Regions from separate parts of the Homo sapiens genome. Here region 2 is linked to region 1. A link means that fine-mapping ties the variant in region 1 to the expression of a gene that starts in the linked region. Tissue or cell type: cerebellar hemisphere. Region 1 holds a variant in brackets; the other region holds the start of a gene. All regions are shown on one strand. Distances are from middle to middle.

What was found. PIP is the estimated chance that this variant, and not a neighbour inherited with it, causes the effect.
Region 2: it holds the start of TMEFF1, and the variant in region 1 is the best candidate, but not a certain one, in a credible set for the expression of TMEFF1 in cerebellar hemisphere (GTEx, PIP 0.83).

Annotation. Positions count from the first base shown.
Region 1 is chr9:100,844,156-100,847,012 of GRCh38, reverse strand. The region is part of intron 3 of LOC105376179 (a long non-coding RNA gene); the gene reads right to left. Among named protein-coding and RNA genes, the nearest start is that of PLPPR1, 180 kb to the left of the region's middle. The variant T/C (reference allele first, on the strand shown) is at 1,502.
Region 2 is chr9:100,471,520-100,474,197 of GRCh38, reverse strand. It overlaps TMEFF1 (transmembrane protein with EGF like and two follistatin like domains 1), which reads right to left and starts at 1,049. Exons shown (of 10, transcript NM_003692.5): 1 at 458-1,049. The coding sequence starts at 653. The region is part of intron 1 of MSANTD3-TMEFF1 (MSANTD3-TMEFF1 readthrough); the gene reads right to left. LOC124902237 (a long non-coding RNA gene) reads left to right here and starts at 1,308. Exons shown (of 3, transcript XR_007061702.1): 1 at 1,308-1,395; 2 at 1,691-1,821. RefSeq lists silencers at 264-423, 734-793, 1,074-1,233.

The sequences.
Region 1 (2,857 bases):
GAAGGCTGCACTGTCAGCTTCTCTACTTTTGAGGTTTTGGGACTTGGACTGATCCACTACTGGCTTCCTTGCTCCTCAACTTGCAGACGGCCTATCGTGGGACTTCACCTTGTGATCGCGTGTGTCAATTCCCCTTAATAAACTCCCTTTCATATATACATGTATCCTATTAGTTCTGTCCCTCTGGAGAACCCTGACTAATACAGCAGGTATGGAGAGAGTTTATTGGGGACTGACTTATGGAGAGACAGAAAAGTCACCTCACCTTTCTGGCTGAACTCACGAGTCACAGAATTTTTTTAGTTATGATGAAAACTGGGAATTCTCTTCCTGCCATATACACAAGGATCTCCTTTCTATTTGTGGCTGCATAGTTAGGGAACTCTATGAGACAGAAAACATCAGACTTTCCTTCATGAAGGTATCAATTTCCCTTAAGAATCTTGGCCTTCCATAAGAATGATACAGTGGAATTTGGGGACTCTGGGGAAAGGATGGAAGAGGGAGAGGGATAAAAGACTGCATTGAGTACAGTGTACACTGTTCGGGTGATGGGGGCACCAAAATCTTAGAAATCACTACTAAAGAACTCATCATGTAACCAAACACCATCTGTTCCCCAAAAACCTATTGAAACTTAAAAAAAAAATTTAAAAAAAGATTCTTGGCCTTCAGGTCTGGTATTCTATTAATCCACTACATCAGGGTTTAGTAATGGGTACCATTAGTTAAAATACCTGAAATGTAATATGTTCCTTAAATGAAGATAGGCTTTCTGTGACCTCTAAACTCCTGTACTTCAAGGCAACTCATTTAGAAGCTAGAACATCTATTCTAATATAAAATTGGGAAGCTCTAACAACATAAAAATATCTACTATGTACTTGAATGCATCTAATGTCATACAGAGAGCTAATGGAGAAGTCATCTGAAAGCTCCCAATGTCAGTCACTGAGGCCCACTGTGGACGCCAATTATTTTGTGGAGAAGACAGAAAAAGTGTAAAGAAAGGACCAAAGCCATGTATATACTTTTACCCTTACCTTTAAGATGTTTAACTGATCTCTTCCTAATTCTCAAATGAGTAAAGTAGTGACTAAAGATTAATGTCAGATGTATTACCATGTTTTTTGGTTTTGTTTTTGTTTTTACTTGTTTGTTTTTGTTTTTTGAGATATAGTCTCGTTCTGTCACCCAGGCTGGAGTGCAGTGGCACGATTTCGGCTCACTGCAAACTCTGCCTCCCAGGTTCAAGCGATTCTGATGCCTCAGCCTCCCAAGTAGCTGGGATTACAGGCGCACACCACCACACCTAGCTAATTTTTGTATTTTTAGTAGAGGCAGTGTTTCACTATGCTGGCCAGGCTGCTCTCAAACTCCTGACTTCCAGTAATCCGCCTGCCTCAGCTTCCCAAAGTGCTGGGATTACAGGCATGAGCCACCCCACCCAGCTCTCTTACCATGTTTTTATCTTATGTTAAAAAGGCATCAAGATTTATCA[T/C]TGTTAGAAGAGAAGTTGTTATTTCATTGGAGGAGGTTGATTTTCTGGTGCAGATACATTCTCACTTGAAGCTCACAATAGCCATATTCAGGCAACTGTGGAAACACTACCTGAAAAGCAGAGAGTACCGCTGATCCTCACCATTACACCATGGCGTCTCACTGGCTTACCCAGCAATGCTGAGTGAGTATTGCTCTCATATACGTTTTAAGGATGGCAAGAATAAAAAAAATAAAAAATAAAAGAAACACTGCTATTGCAAAATTTAAGAGTTCAAAGAGGCAGTGGTTTTCACTAAGTCACCTAGACCATGAGTACAGGAAGTAAAAATAAACGTAGATTTCCTACCACCCAGTCCAGAACTTTTGCACTATAGCACATATGCAACCATACTCACATGTGCACATGCACACAGAATAACAAGAGCTCAGCTTTACAACTGCCAGGCAAGAAATGCACCACGTTACACTGAAGAAGCCGTGAAAGCAGAAAAATCAATCTACCATTTTAATGAAAAAATGTGAGAAACTGAGATGAGGTATGGTGCAATCACTTTGGGCAGATTTGGCTGTTTGGCTATTAATCATTTCTCTACTGTGCAGTCAGCACAACTAAGTCTATTCAGCGTATTGTTGGGGCCACTGTAGAGACGCTGTAACCAAGTCAGATGAGATTATTAAACCATCATTGTATCCTAAGGACCAAGAACTGTGCAAAAAATTGCAGTTTTCAAGTGAAAAAGATTAACTCTAGGAAAAAAACAATCATTTTCCCCAGGACTGGAATATTGAAATTTCCTCACATGACAACTTACATTCTAGCAATTACAAATCTTGGATTTAAGATAAAATTTTATACCAAATCTAAAATCAATCTTCTATCACTTTCTGTTTAAAGAAAGTACAAATAAGATAATACCTTATAACCTCTCATTATAAGCTATTATCAGGTTAATACTTTATAATGAGAGTCTTAAATTTGCTTATAGATCTAATTATTTTTCTTTATCTTTGCCTTCTGCTCCCAAACTAATTTAGAGACCTCAGTGACTGCCTCAGAGGCCATCACACTATCCTTCCTAGTGTTTGATACTTACAGAATCATTCTGCTGACTACTGAGTTACCTAGAGAATACGGAGTATTTTCTAACAAGCCTTTTAAATCCACCCATCTGAGCCTATGGTATTAGTCAGAGTTCTCTAGAGGGATAGAACTAATAGGATAGATATATACATATATAAAGGGGATTTTATTAAGTATTAACTCACATGATCAAAAGGTCCCACAACAGGTCGTCTGCAAGCTGAGGAGCAAGGAGAGCCAGTCCGAGTTCCAAAACTGAAGAACTTGGAGTCC
Region 2 (2,678 bases), 370 kb after region 1:
CCCCTGCCCTCACCCCGCCCAGCCCCCTCGCCGTCTCCCACCCACCGCACTCTGCACACACACACACAGATCCCTGCCTGGGGCCGCCCTCCCTCCCCTCAGCCTTCACAACACAAACACACGCTCCCGCGAGCACACCCACGACCACACCGGGAGCCCCGGCCGGCCGCTCAGCCTCGCCGGCCCCGGCCCCGGCCCCACCGCCTCCCCACACGCCGGGCCGCCCTCGCCCAGCCACTCGACACACTCGGACGCACCCACGGCCACTCCCATCCCCAGCGCCGGTCCCAAAGCCACACCGCACGCTCGCGCCCTGCCCTCCGCCCTCGCTCACCCTCGGGCCCACCCCTGGGACCCCCACGACGGGGTCTTTCCCAGCCCGGCCGACCGCAGGGACCACGAGGGAGGCGGCAACGGAGGGGTGGGAAGACCTAGGGCCGGCTCCGACCGGTCCTACCTGAGCAGTTGATGCTCTTGCCTTTGCCGCCGGGACAGTCCCCGCCGCTGCCGCCGCCACCACCCGGGGGCTGGTTGGACGCGCGGCTCCCGGGCAGAGAGAAGGCGAAGAGCAGAAGCACCGACGTGTAGCAGCAGAAGGCGAGCGGAGGCGCGGCAGGCAGCCGGAGCGGCGCCTCAGCGGCTGCGGCGCCCATGACTGGTGCCCCTGGACGGCGGGAAGCGCAGGGAGCCGCAGGCCGGGGGCATCCAGCCGCGCGCCCAGAGCCCCGCCGCTGCCTCGGTGCCTCCTAGCAGCCGCGCCGCTGAGCCGGGGAGCAGCCCGTCAGCATCCCCGCCCCACCCGCAGCGTCCGCCAGGCCCGGGCCCGCGGCGCTCGGGACGGAGTCGGCGGGTCCGGGCGCGTGCGAGGGTCGCGGGCGCGCAAGGGTGCGCGCGAGGGTGCGAGCCGGCGTGGGGGACACCGCGGCGAGGGGAGCGGGCGGGCGCGCGCGCGGCGGGCGGGGGTCGCGGGCCGGAGGCAGGCCCAGCCTCTTGCTCGCCTCCTCGCCTTCCCTTTGTGTCCGTGGCCGTTGCCACCGCGTCACAAAGACCCCGGCCCGCCCGGTGAGGGGCGCGTGACGGAGCCGCCGGCGGGAGGGGTGGCTGCGACCCCGCCCCGCGCACACCCCCAGCTCCCGCGCCGACAGCTCCGCCCCCGGCCGCGGCCGGCGCCGCCTCCAGGGGAGCTATTGTTCCTGCGACAGGGCAGGGGCGCGGGGGCCGGGGTTGGGGCCACCCCTCGGCGGTAGGCTGCACCGTAGCAGACTTGTTTGCCGCCCTTTGTGAGCTGTTTTTGAAGCGTTTCCTTCGCCCAGCAGCAGGGCTGGGAATGAGGGCAGGTGGTCTGTCATATATCTATAATAGTTTTTAGGTGGAAGAAACTGAGTCACGGAAGAGGTAAAGGTGACTTGTCCAAGGTTGCATACCAAGAAATGGGCAGGACCAGGATGGGAGCCCAAGTTCTGACTCTAGCCATGCAGTTCTCAGAGATGTTGGGTGAATGGTTAGATTTCTAGGTTCCTCATCCCCACCTCATTCCCGTAGACTCACATACAAGTGAGTGAAAATAGTTTTACAAAAGTCTGTGTTGCCCTCTCCCCCTAACAAAAGCTGAGATTCAGAGAGGATTTTCTAATATACAAGGCCTGGTGAAAGCTCTTTATGTGCATTCTCTTCAATTATTTTTTTACAGGCCTCGGAGGGAGTTTTCGTTCTTATCTCCATTCTACAGATGAGGAAGTAGGGACCCAGAGAGGCAAGGTGATCTGACTCCCAGTCCAGTGCTCTTCCTACCACATCCTGCTAGGTGATAACTAGACATAGGTACTAAGATCATGGACTGAATTGTGTGAAAGTCCTCTGCCTTTTTCATTCTATTATATTGCATCCCACCCCAGAAGGAATTTTAAGTCTCATTGAAAAACTGATCAATTTGATTCATAAAATTAAGAAATGTGTGAAAAGCCACCGCAAGCAAAGCCACATTAGGAAAAATGTCTTCAGTGCAAATATGAGACAATATACTTAATATAAAGTTATATGTCAAGAAGAAAAAGTTAACATAATAGAAAAATAGGAAGCTTGACTCTTATTCACAAAAAGTACAGACAATAAATACATGAAAACAGATTTGAACCCACTAGTAATAAAAGATTAAAACCACAAAACTCTGGCCAGGGGCAGTGGCTCACACCTGTAATCCCAGCACTTTTAGAGGCCGAGGTGGGCGGATCACCTGAGGGCAGGAGTTCGAAACCAACCTGGCTAACATGGTGAAACCCCGTTTCTACTAAAAATAGAAAAAATTAGCCAGGCATGGTGGCGCGCACCTGTAACGCCTATAATCCCAGCTACTTAGGAGGCTGAGGCAGGAGAATCGCTTGAACCCGGGAGGTAGAGGTTGCAGTGAGCAGAGATTGCACTATTTCACTCCAGCTTGGGCAACAAGAGCGAAACTCCATCACACACACACACGCACACACAATTATTTTCCCTTTGGATGATTAACAAGAGTTAAAAGAATTGGCAGACTGAGCACTACTAATTTATACATTTTAGGAGGGCAATTTGACTATGTATCAAAAAACCTTTAAAATATGTTTACTCTTTAGCAATTCCATTTATTGGAATTTATCTAAAGGATAACTGGATAAGCACACAAAAATGTATACATTAGGATG